3 separate regions of the Homo sapiens genome follow, and regions 2 and 3 are each reported to be linked to region 1. Evidence: microRNA targets listed by miRTarBase, many of them from high-throughput screens and not tested one by one. Region 1 holds a microRNA gene; each other region holds the end of a gene's coding sequence.
Evidence for each region. Region 1 holds the annotated microRNA hsa-miR-6808-5p (CAGGCAGGGAGGUGGGACCAUG, at 1,492-1,513, shown strand). A microRNA usually pairs through its seed, bases 2 to 8, with sites in the 3' UTR of a target mRNA and lowers its output. Matches are read on the target gene's strand: a 7mer-m8 pairs with bases 2 to 8, a 7mer-A1 pairs with bases 2 to 7 and ends in A, and an 8mer does both.

Region 2: miRTarBase lists FIBCD1 as a target of hsa-miR-6808-5p. Seed matches in the 3' UTR shown: 7mer-m8 at 3,521-3,527, 7mer-m8 at 2,978-2,984 and 7mer-A1 at 2,380-2,386.
Region 3: miRTarBase lists ESS2 as a target of hsa-miR-6808-5p. Seed matches in the 3' UTR shown: 8mer at 1,925-1,932.

What each region holds. Positions count from the first base shown.
Region 1 is chr1:1,337,049-1,341,194 of GRCh38, reverse strand. MIR6808 (microRNA 6808) reads left to right here and starts at 1,487; the gene lies at 1,487-1,545. It overlaps DVL1 (dishevelled segment polarity protein 1), which reads left to right. Exons shown (of 15, transcript NM_001330311.2): 6 at 692-785; 7 at 879-948; 8 at 1,018-1,157; 9 at 1,383-1,459; 10 at 1,546-1,613; 11 at 1,756-1,908; 12 at 2,542-2,673; 13 at 2,759-2,926; 14 at 3,012-3,218. RefSeq lists a silencer at 3,192-3,251.
Region 2 is chr9:130,900,275-130,904,274 of GRCh38, forward strand. It overlaps FIBCD1 (fibrinogen C domain containing 1), which reads right to left. Exons shown (of 7, transcript NM_032843.5): 7 at 2,166-4,000. The coding sequence ends at 3,790. Among named protein-coding and RNA genes, the nearest start is that of QRFP, 5.5 kb to the left of the region's middle.
Region 3 is chr22:19,130,486-19,134,485 of GRCh38, reverse strand. It overlaps ESS2 (ess-2 spliceosome associated protein), which reads left to right. Exons shown (of 10, transcript NM_022719.3): 10 at 11-4,000. The coding sequence ends at 290. It overlaps TSSK2 (testis specific serine kinase 2), which reads right to left and starts at 3,178. Exons shown (of 1, transcript NM_053006.5): 1 at 1,864-3,178. The coding sequence starts at 3,086. The coding sequence ends at 2,010.

The DNA of each region.
Region 1 (4,146 bases):
GTGCAGATGTGCGTGTGTGCAGGTGTGCTTGTACAGGTGTATGTGAAGGTGTGCGTGCAGGTGTGCATGTGCAGGCGTGCGTGTGCAGGTGTGTGCAGGTGTGCCTGTGTGCAGGGGTGCGTGTGTGCAGGTGTGCATGTGTGTGCAGGGGTGCGTGTGTGCAGGGGTGCATTGTGCAGGGGTGCGTGTGCAGGTGAGTATGCAGGTGTGCATGTGTGCCTGTGCAGGTGTGTAGTGTGCAGGGGTGCGTGTGTGCAGGTGTGCATGCGTGTGCAGGTGTGCGTGTGTTCATGCGTGCGTGTGCAGGGGTGTGCATGTGTGCCTGTGCGCAGGGGTGCATGTGTGCAGGGTTGCGTGTGTGCAGGTGTGTGTGCAGGTGTGTGCATGTGTGCCTTGTGCAGGGGTGCGTGTGTGCAGGTGTGCATGTGTGTGCAGGTGTGCATGTGTGCAGGTGTGTCAGTAGTGGATCTGGCTACATGTGTCTGTGCCCAGTTTGCCTGTCTCTGGGATTTTCGTGTGTGCTCATATGCATATCACGTGTGCAGGGCCTGGGGCGTGGACGTCAGGCACTGAGCCTGCTTTGGAACAAGCCTGGCCTAGACCCCCGATTCCCACTCAGTATTGGGGGAGCGGGTTCCCACCCCCCTACCCATGTCTCCAGCTCCTCTGAGCTCTGACAGTCTGTTCCCAGGCTCAGCAGCTCCACGGAGCAGAGCACCTCATCCAGACTCATCCGGAAGCACAAACGCCGGCGGAGGAAGCAGCGCCTTCGGCAGGCGGACCGGGTAGGCAGCCGGGTGGAGCAGGGCGGGGCTGGGGAGGCGAAGTCAGTGTCGGGCAGCCCCGTGCCTTTTACACACGCCCCCTCTCCTCCATAGGCCTCCTCCTTCAGCAGCATAACCGACTCCACCATGTCCCTCAACATCGTCACTGTCACGCTCAACATGGGTGAGGCCTCGGGGCGAGGGTTGGGGGCAGGGGCAGGGGCTTGGCCGCGGCTCATGGCTCTTCCTGCAGAAAGACATCACTTTCTGGGCATCAGCATCGTGGGGCAGAGCAACGACCGTGGAGACGGCGGCATCTACATTGGCTCCATCATGAAGGGCGGGGCTGTGGCCGCTGACGGCCGCATCGAGCCCGGCGACATGTTGCTGCAGGTGTGTCTGTGGGGGCTGCGGGGTGACATGTAGCTGCGGGTGGGTCCGTGGGGACTTTGGGGTGACGTGCGGCTGCGGGTGGGTCTGTAGGGGCTGCTGGGGGACATGCGGCTGCGGGTGGGTCTGCGGGGGCTGCTGGGGGACATGCGGCTGTGGGTGGGTCTGCGGGGGCGGTGGACTGAGCTGCACATCCTGCCTGCACCACCCTAATCCCCACCCCTGCAGGTGAATGACGTGAACTTTGAGAACATGAGCAATGACGATGCCGTGCGGGTGCTGCGGGAGATCGTTTCCCAGACGGGGTGAGGGCTGGGGGCGCTGGAGCGGGAGGGGCCAGGCAGGGAGGTGGGACCATGGGGGCCTTGCTGTGTGACCACCGTTCCTGCAGGCCCATCAGCCTCACTGTGGCCAAGTGCTGGGACCCAACGCCCCGAAGCTACTTCACCGTCCCACGGGGTGAGTGGCCCTCGGGGCACACGGGGCGGGATGGGGAGGGGGCGCCTACCTAGCCTGAAGGCCTCTCTCCTCTGTGCCCTGCACCCTGCCCTCCCACCCTGTCCATCTGTCCGCCTGTCATCGCCACGTGGCGGCCACCCAGCTGACCCGGTGCGGCCCATCGACCCCGCCGCCTGGCTGTCCCACACGGCGGCACTGACAGGAGCCCTGCCCCGCTACGGTACGAGTCCCTGCTCCAGCGCCGTCACGCGCACCAGCTCCTCCTCACTAACCAGCTCCGTGCCTGGTGCTCCACGTAAGTGGCAGCTCCTGAGGGCCCCAGCAGAAACCGAGGCTTGGAGGGGGCGTCTCTGCCAGCCTCCAGCATGGCCGCCTGTGGCCGTCATGGGGCTGTGACACGTGTGTGTTGCCTGTCCCCAACTCCCTGCACAGACGTGTGCACAGGCACCCGTGCCCACCTTGTGCAGCCCATCCTGCTCATGGTCTGTGTGTTGGGAACAGGGGATGTACGTAGGGCCCCTATGCGGGGAGCACCCACGGCGTCAGAGGCAGGGGCCAGGTCTCCATTCTGCTTCCTGCCATTAACACGACTAACAGCCTGCGCTCTCGGGTGGGGCATGCGGGGAGGGGAAGGGGCCTGCCCTGTTCTCATTACTTCCTGGTCTGCAGGGTGGGGTGTCAGCCCAGTTTGTGCCTAGGATCCTGATGAAAAGTGTCTGTAGAAGTGGGAGACTAAATGTCCAACCCCCCTGCTCACGCCCCAGCCTCACGGGGGTGCATCCTGCAGTGGGCCGGGGCCCTGCTGTCACGCACCGTCCAGCTTGCGCCCTGGCGCAGGCTCTGCCCAGAGGCTCCCCTGGGGGTGCAGGGCCCTGAGTCCCCCGCCTTCAGATGCTGGGGCTGAAGCGGGGCTGTCTGTGCTTTGCAGAGCTGGAAGAGGCGCCGCTGACGGTGAAGAGTGACATGAGCGCCGTCGTCCGGGTCATGCAGCTGCCAGACTCGGGACTGGAGATCCGCGACCGCATGTGGCTCAAGATCACCATCGCCAATGCCGTCATCGGTGAGTGGCCGTCCCCGCGGGCGGATAGTGCCAGGGGCAGGGCTGCTTGCCTCGAGGCTGCGGGCTGACCGCTGGTGCCGGCCAGGGGCGGACGTGGTGGACTGGCTGTACACACACGTGGAGGGCTTCAAGGAGCGGCGGGAGGCCCGGAAGTACGCCAGCAGCTTGCTGAAGCACGGCTTCCTGCGGCACACGGTCAACAAGATCACCTTCTCCGAGCAGTGCTACTACGTCTTCGGGGATCTCTGCAGCAGTGAGTGGGGGCTTCGGGCTTCAGGGCGGGGGGGAGGGGAACGCCGGAGGCCCCTCCGCGGCCCTCACCTACCCTCCCCCGCCAGATCTCGCCACCCTGAACCTCAACAGTGGCTCCAGTGGGACTTCGGATCAGGACACGCTGGCCCCGCTGCCCCACCCGGCTGCCCCCTGGCCTCTGGGTCAGGGCTACCCCTACCAGTACCCGGGACCCCCACCCTGCTTCCCGCCTGCCTACCAGGACCCGGGCTTTAGCTATGGCAGCGGCAGCACCGGGAGTCAGCAGAGTGAAGGTGAGAACGCCGCCCCTACCTGCCCTTCCCCGGCTCCGCCCCCAGCTCCGCCCCACTCCACTGCTGCTCCGCCCCCAGTTCCACCCCACCCCGCTGCTGCTCCACCCCCAGCTCCACCCCACCCCGCTGCTGCTCCGCCCTGCTTCTCTGCTGACCCCAATCCCATGCTCCTGCTGTGTACTTGGGCCCTGGGTGGGCTCCTTCTGGAAAAGGCAAGTGCCAGGGGGATCCAGGAGCCAGTGTGAATGGGGAGGACAGGGAAGCGTCTCACACAGGGGCAGCCTGGACCCCACCTCATCTGGGTGGGATTGGGATGAGGGGCCTCCAGGAGCCTGGCGGCCTGGGCGGCTGTGCCTGGTAGGGGTGGCGGCTGGTGGTTCTCCTATGGTAGAGGCAGGAGGCCCTGAGACCATGTGGCCATGGGCCATGTGACAAGGACAGGGCAGGGGTGGCCAAGGAGTCTGACAGGGTCACTTTCTAGGCCCCAGGACACAGGAGGGTGGCAGCTGCAGCCCGGGTAGGGAGCCTGACGTGGATGGTGCCGTGCATCCTAGCCTTGTGCCCCTGGCTGGGGTGTGTTTAGGGGCCGGGGATCCAGAGTGTTCCTGAGGTGTTGCCTGGTGGAGCAGAGGCCCCAGTGGGTGGGGTTGGTGAGGCCAGCAGGGGCGTCTGCAGGCCAGGGAGGGGTGCAGGTGGCTTCGTGGAGGGCCCAGGAAGGAGGGCGAGAGAGGAGAGGCGGCCAGAGGGTGTGGGACCGCAGAGAAGCCACGCTGGGTGTCTACTGACCCTCGACCGGCGCTTGCGCCCACTTCAGCCCCGCCCAGCCCGCGGTCAGTCCCCACTGGTGGCGGGTGGGTGCTGGGCAGGTGCCAGGCAGCCGGGCGTGTAACTCGTGCTATCCCTTGTCTTGTGCTAAACAAGCCTTAGA
Region 2 (4,000 bases), not on the chromosome of region 1:
AGGCTTCCTCCACCAGTCGCTGTGCTGGCCCTCTGAGCTCCCTCTGCAGCCCTGGCCAGTGCTGTGTGGCCCGAGTCAGACACACCTGTCAGCGCATGAGGGGCCAACGTGGCCAGCCTTGAGCCAGAGCTCCCAACACTCCCTACAAATCCCACCGAGGCCCGACCTCAGCCCTCTGGGTTTGCCAAGTCCTGCCGGCTGCTTGGGCCACACAGTTTGGGGACATCCTTGTCTCTGAAAGCAGATGAAGAAATGGAGGCCCTGGGGAAGCCCGGTCCGCTGAGGCCAAAGCTTAGTGTCCTGTCTCCTTGTTCTGGGTTCTGTGTGTCCCCTGCTGGGTCCTCCTGCCGGTACATTGCTCCTGAAGTCACAGGACGGGTCTGCCGCTGGCCACAGGCGTTCTTTATGTCCCGTCCCCCCATCTCACACAAACGGTACCTCTCCTCTTCCTTCCCCTCCCTGGAGCCAGCGTCCTCATGGTTTGAGATGGTTCAACAATCCTCCAAATCTCTGCCTGCTCAGACACGCCCCTGGGTGACAGGGCCTCCAGAGACCCTGGCTCCCAGCTTCCAGGGCTCTGGCCCCAGCCAAGCCAGCCAGAGGCCTGTGTGGACGAGGACAGGTGGCAGGAAGGGTTAGGGGCACCAGAAGGAGGTAGGCACTGGCGATACAGCTTTTGTCCCAAAGACAAACATTATAAAACCAATTTACACGCAGCTGCAGGGGAAAGCTGTTTGAGAATGGCTCACAGCTCTGTTCCTTTGCTGTTCTCCAGCTGAATGTGCTGAGGCCACCAGCATGGAAACCAAGGTTCCTTCCATCCTCTGGACCTTGGTGCTCAGGCAGTCAGCTGCGTGGCCTTTGGTGTAACTCTCTGAGATATGTGTGAAGTTTAGGGGAAAGGAGGAAGGCCACTGGCTGAGCCACAAAACCTACCTGTGCACGTGGAGAAGCAACGGCGCAGGTGCGCTGCCTCCAGGTCCCAGTGTGGCGATGCAGAGACCCCTCCCACTCAGCTTACTCCCCTCAAGTGAAGCAGCAGGAGGAGGCTCAGTCAGGTGGCATTGTGGGATGGAGGGCTGCAGGCATCCACCCTCAAACTGGGTCCCAGGGGACGGTTTGGGGCCCGTGGGTCCCAGGCGACCCTGTGCACATGCTAGCCCTTGGCCTGGTCACTCAGCCCACAGGTCTCGAGCTGTCCCTCGCCCAGGGCTCTCCCAGCATCCCCATCCTCCTGTCTCAGATGAGAGCCATTTGCACTGGTATCAGACCGTAGGCTCTGCAGGGCTAGGGTGAGAGGGTGTGGCCCGGAGCAGGTGCGCAGGGACCGTTTTTCCCCAGTGCCAGCCTTTGAAGGTGCCCCTGGGGAGGGTGGGGCCGGTGCGCTGGCCTGGGCCCTCCCCACCATGTCAAGCTCCGTGCCCATTCAGCCGGTGCTTGGTAGGGCCATGTGCCCTCTCCTGGTCTGGGACAGGGGCCGGTGCTCTAGGGCAGTAACAGGGCTCTAGAAGGGACAGGCATCCCCAGTGCAGCCAGCCACTGAGGACAGATGCTGCCGGGACCTGGACCTGGACCACAGGCTCACAGGCCACCTGCACCTGCCCCCGGCCCCTCGCCAGGCCCCAGCCATGGTGCATCTGTTCCACAGCCAAGCCCTGGCACGAGGGCCCTGGTGCCTCCTGCTGCACCCACACATCTGTGAGTCCATTAACTTCACACTCACCAGGAGTTTGTTTGATGACACATCAGAAAGTGCTGGCACTTTCTAAGCAGTCGCTGGCGCAGTCACTGGCATGGGGAGGCTGGTAGCTCCTGCCTGGGGCCTGTCGGTGGGGGGCTCCTGGGATGAGAACTCGGGTCCCACCCAGCCCCTGCAATATGACAGGGTGCTCTGGGAACCCAGATGGTCTGGGTGGGCTCCCTTGGCTTCTAGATGGTGGGAAGAGGAGCCAAGAAGGGATTTCCCGTTGAATCTCATGTGGTCATTTTGCCCACATCTTGCCCCTTGTGGCCCCGCACCTGGCCTGCTCCAGCCACCACCCCGGCCACACTAGGCTGCCACTGCCTGATTCTTGGCTGTATCTGCGTCCAGCTGAGGACCGAGAGGGCAGGGACCAGGTCCTGTCCAGCCTGGGCCCACGGCAGAAGGAAGCGCTGCAGACATCTGCGCATGTGGATGACCTGGTGGCACTGGGACAGAGAGCCAGGTCACACGGCCTCTCCCACCAACCCCCAGTGGTGCCAAGTCAAATTTATTGTTTTTTAAGCACAAACTTCAGTGGGAGGGGAAGGGAGAACGGAACCCCACACCCCCTAGGCACCTGCCATCGGGTGTCCTTTGGAGGAAGCCACCTCCCCTCCTGCCCGAGGAGAGGCTGCTAGGCAGCTCCCCAAGGCTGACTCCAGCCCTTTCGGAGGCCCCCCATCAGGAGGCCTTGGAAAAGCCGCCCTGCATCTGGGCCTGACGTAACGCACGCGGGTCCAGGGCTGCTGAGCAGACAGCTGAGGACCCGGCTCCAGCCCTGCCCTTGTGGCTGCTGGTCCTGGGAGCCTGCGGGTCTCACCTCTGCATGTGTGCACACAAGGAGTGGGGATGACAGCGTGCTGGGTGTTGGGAGGATTCAACAAGAAAGTGTCCAGGTGGTGCCTGGTCTGGTGCCCCAGTCCCCCCGACCCCATTTGCCCGGTGAGGTGGTCCCTGTCCCTTGACCACTCGCCGGGCCGGGCCTGGCCTGGGTCCAGGTGGCCACGGTCAATGGCAAGGGTTGGCCTCCTCATGGAGACAGCCACCTCAGGGAAGGGGTCATCACCCCCAAGGCCCTCCTGGGAGGCCTCAGGACCCTGGAGTCCCTGGGAAATTGGTGGTGGGGGTTGTACAAGCCTCATCCCAGCCCTGCCTAGGCCCCAGCCCAGAAAACCAAGAGCTTCCCATTAGCGCAGTCCAGCCCCACGGTGCAGGGCCCCACCCACCTTCCAGAGGCAGGAGAAATGGGATGGCAGCCCCAGCTGCCCCAGGTAGGAGGACGGCCGGGAGCTGGGTGGGGGATGGGTTGGGCCTCATTTGAGACAGAGAGCAGGTGGGCACAGCAGGTAAGAGGACTGCAGACCCCAGGCCTGCCGGGGCACAGGGTGGGTGGCCTCCAGGGAACTGGTCTCAGCCTTGGAGCGTGGGTCCCCAAAGGCAGCAGCTCCCCATCCTGACCTCAGGGCCTGGTAGGATGGGGCCACCCAGCCCACAGCCAGGCTGAGGCCCTTGGGGGAGAGGTGGGTTCTCTGGGCACCAGGGAAACGGGGTGGGGGTTGGCATTGGGAGGGCTGGAGGATACTGGCCTCAGACCTGACCTCAGAGAGACCTGACGTTCCCCACGATCTGCTAGGAGGACTCCAGGGGTGCTGTCTGCCCCCTGCTCTCTGTCCCCATAATGCCGGGTATTTGGCCGGGCAGGGCAGAGGGTGCCTGGGGCAGACTCCACCATCCTGGCCAGGGGACGGCAAACAGCACCGGAGTCACAGTGGGGGCAGGCAGGAGTTGGGGTCGTCAAGTTTGCCAGCCCCCATCAGCAGAGGCAAGAGATCAGTGAGCTGCCAAATGGAGGGGGTGGGGACGGCGAGAAGGCGATGTGTGACTTCACCGGCCCAGGGAGCTTCGTGTCAGGGATGGCCCGGCCCCTCCCTACTGGAGAGTGGGTCCGCCAGGCACAGGTGGGTGGAGAACATTCACGAAAGAGTGAGGTGGGGTCGGGGATGGGGCGACAGGGACCAGCAGGGCCAAGGACAAGGTGCACCAGTCTAGCGGTCCTCCCGGACCGGCCGGATCTTCATCTCAGAGAACTTGAGTGAGTACTGCCAGCCGGTCCAGGAGGACCACTCCACGCCGTCGGCATAGGAGGCGTGCGCACCGCGCAGGTACTGCCCATTGAGGTTGGACGTGTGGCAGTTGCGGTACCACCAGGCACCGCGGTAGAAGGCGGCACAGTTGTTCTCTGAATGGTCGCTGTCA
Region 3 (4,000 bases), not on the chromosome of region 1:
TCCACCCCAGCCTCACCCCCAAAGGCCTGAGCCCAGCCATGTCGCCAGCCCTACAGCGCCTTGTGAGCAGGACGGCCAGCAAGTACACAGACCGGGCCCTGCGGGCCAGCTACACACCATCCCCAGCACGCTCCACCCACCTCAAGACCCCGGCCAGTGGGCTGCAGACCCCCACAAGCACACCGGCGCCTGGCTCTGCCACACGCACCCCTCTCACACAGGACCCGGCCTCCATCACGGACAACCTGCTGCAGCTCCCTGCCCGGCGCAAAGCTTCGGACTTCTTTTAGAGCCAGGCCTGGGCTGGGCTCATAGACGCTTCACAGAGCCTGCAGGGCAGCTGTACACCCAGCAGAGGACTCCAGCCTTCTCGGGGCCCAGGCCTGGGCCAGAAGCTGTTGACCATACCAGGAGTCACTGGAGAAAGGGGCTGTGCTGGGGCCAGACTGGCACAAGGCACTCGTGCCCACACCACACCCCAGGGCCTTGCCAAGCTGTTTGCTGTTTAATTGGCCCCTTGAACTGTCATTAAAGAACACCTAGGTACAGTCTGGGGGGTTGCCTCTCCATCTTGCTCCCCACACGAGCCCTAGCCTTGCCCTGGGGCCTGCATCACGTCTCAGGACTGCGGGGCTTGAAGCGAGGGGCCCCCCAGGTGAGGAAGCTGCAGGTGGGGCGGCTGTGGGAGCACCGGGTGACTGGCGTTGCTTTCTGCGGCACTCGGAACCTGTGTTCTGAGTTGAGCTCACATCCTGCAGTGCTTTCTGCTTCTCTGGGGGGATATGAAGGAGAAACGGAGCCCTTGGAAGTTGTACCCTTAGGTTCCCCTGCGGTTCTGGGCCCAGGTCTGCAGCCTCCACTCTGGGCTTGCCGGCTGTGAGGTGCGCTGGTTATAGGACTGTGTGGGGGCTGCATATCAGGTGATCTCAGCTATCACCTTCTCCCAGCACCTGGCTTCCAGCTCATGGGGTGGGACTATCCCACTCACCCCTCTGCTATAGGCACTGCCCATCTTATGCTGCTGGCCCTGGCCTCACCTGGTCACTTCCACCAACAGGAGCTCCCAGATAACAGTGGGTTGCTGGACAGATCAGGCTGGGACTCTTAAGGGGTGGGGGACGTGGGGCCTTCAGTGCTTTATCCCCTAGGAAAGGGTGCACGTTATCCCAAGGGAGCCCCCAGGAAGTGGGGAGGGAGGGGGGAGGAGCATGTCTAGGTGCTGACCACCTGGAGCACTTGGCCAGCAAGTGGGCCGCATGCTTTGGGAGCAATGGGTGACCCAGCAGGAAGCACAAAAGACCGGCCAGTGTGCCATCATCAAGGGCTGCTGAGCAGCTTGAAGAGCCACTGGGTGGGGAGGGCACACGGGGAGGTCTCAGCTGGGGCTGCCCCTGGAGGACAGGGCAGGGAACTTGAGGGCTGAGGACAGAAATCTCACATGACTCCAGGAAATAGAGGAAGAGGAGGATGCTGAGCGAGGGATTGTGAGGGAGTGGGGGTAGGTCAGAGGGGGCTGAACTGCAGGAAGCCAGGGGGAGTCGTGGACCACTGGAGCTGGCCAGCCCCAGGGCATTGGGGACAAGGCCAGGTCAGAGGGAGACAGTGTGGGCCTGGTGGGTGGACCCTGGCAGAGGCCCTCTTGTCCCCCACAAGGCCAGGCCACACTGTGATTCTGCCTGTACCTGAGCATCTGTCCTGTGCTCCTAGGCCGGAGACCACTGTGTGTCAGGTGGGGCGGTTGGCTGAGTCCCAGAGAAAAACACTCCTCACTGGGCACTCTTGATGCTTGCACACACCCTGTGGTTTATTTGGTGGTCAGTAAGGAACGTCTTTGCTGCTAAGTGGAAGAAAGCTAATGGAACGTAATCAAAATAGTGGTTTAATTGACGAATTTTACTTGCACCTGTGCCTTCTTCAGATCCTACCTGCCTACTTAGTTTACGTGAAGGCCGACTGCACCATGCCCCCCAACCCCGACCCCCACCACACACAACGGGGCCATTGTCATGCTAGGTGCTTGCTTTCCCCACCTCAGCTCCGGAGATGTGATGGTCTTTGGCCCTGGAGGTCTCGGCCAGCCTGTCCTCCATCCTGTTCTCGTTCTCGGGCACCACCAGCAGCCGGTGCTGGGTTTTGGCTCCAAGCTTGTGGTCGGGCCGGTGGTCGGGCCTCAAGCCTGTCTTGGTGTCCAGTTTGCACTCAGCGCGGTACTTGCCCTCCCCCTCCCTCTTGAAGGAGGCAGAAGACGTGGCTTTGGGCTTGGGGGGCTGCAGCCACGAGTGGCTGAGGATCTCATCGATGTGGAGCCGCTGGCTGACGTCGGGCTGCAGCATGCGGTAGATGAGGTCCTTGCACTCGCAGGTCAGGTTCTTGGAGCGCGGGAAGTCCACACGGTGCTCCTTCTGGATACGCAGCATCTTCCTGATGTCGGAGTCGTCATAGGGCATGGAGCCGCAGACCATGATGTACAGGATCACGCCCAGGCTCCAGATGTCATACACCTTGGGCTGGTAGGGGATGCTCTGCAGCACCTCGGGGGCTGCATATGCTGCCGACCCGCAGAAGGTCTTGCTGAGGATGATGCGCCCATTGCTGTCCCGCAGGCAGCGCTTGGAGAAGCCAAAGTCAGACAGCTTGATGTTGAAGTCCTTGTCGAGGAGAAGGTTCTCGCACTTGAGGTCCCGGTGGACGATGTCCAGGTCGTGGCAGTACTTGACGGCGGAGGAGAGCTGTCGGAACATCTTGCGTGCCACGTCCTCATGCAGGGCTCCCTGGCACTTGATGAACTCGAGGAGGTCGCCCTGGACGCCAAGCTCCATGATGATGTAGATCCGTCCGTCAGAGGTCTCAAAGATCTCGTAAGTCTTGATGATGGAGCCGTGGTTGACAGTTGCCAGGATGTCCATCTCCCGAGGAAGGAATCTCTCCACAAAGTCAGTAGGTGTTTTCTTGCGGTCGATGATCTTGACAGCCACATTGAACTTGAGGCGCTCAGAGTAGGCAGATTTGACTTTTGCGTAGGAACCCTTGCCAAGATTGATGCCTACGATGTAACCCTTCTTCCTTAGGACTGTGGCATCGTCCATGGTGCCAGGAGCGACTGGCGCCGCTGCCGTCTACATCCCCCCGTCATGTGGGCCAGCAGGCATTGTCCTCATTTACACTACCGGAGGCGTCTGGCTGGGCTGCCCTGGGCTGGGCTTCGACTCAGGGGTGGAACACTCAGCATTGTCTCCGGGTGACTTCAGCCAATGAACTCATAAAGCCAAGGAGTGGGGGCGGGGACTGGGCTGAGGGAGAACAGGGTCTCTGGAACCGTGGAAGCCAGGCTGGTCTGGCAGGAGCACCCACTCCCCGCCCGCTGGAAGGAAGCCTGTCCCCAGGACAGGACTCTGGTGGCCCTGCTGCTGCTGCATTGGTTTCCCTGTCACAAGTCAAGCTGGAGGGGAGGCGGCCCACGTCCAGCCTGTTTGCATCACCTGGCTGTGGGGACTGACCCTGCATTGGTCTTTGTCCCACTAGGGTGGGTTTCCTGCAGCTTCTTTGGCTATGAAGAAAAGCACCCCCAGGGCTGTGTCCTTGGTGTGGTAGGACAGTTGTCCCTGACAGTCACCCAGACAGGCCTGCATAGCACCCCAGTTACACAGACAGATTTCCACAGCACTGCCTTACCATTGAGCACATAGTTAAATCTAGGGAAATCAGTGCCCAGACATCAAAGCTAGAAATGAAACATGGTCAGCAGGAGCCTTGCATGGGCTTCTCTTTTGCTGGAGCAAGCCAAAATAATAGGAACGGTTTTACATTCCTAGTGCCAGGACCCATCTCGGGTCGACAAAATCTGAAGACAAGTTAAGGGAACAGGCAGCTGTTTGAATAGATCAATTGGATAGTCTAAGGCAGCTCTCTGGACCAAGCTGTAAAGGAGATACAATCGAAATAATCACTCCGGTACCACAGTAGACAGGCCTTGAAGGCACTGGGCCCCTTTTAATCGGAC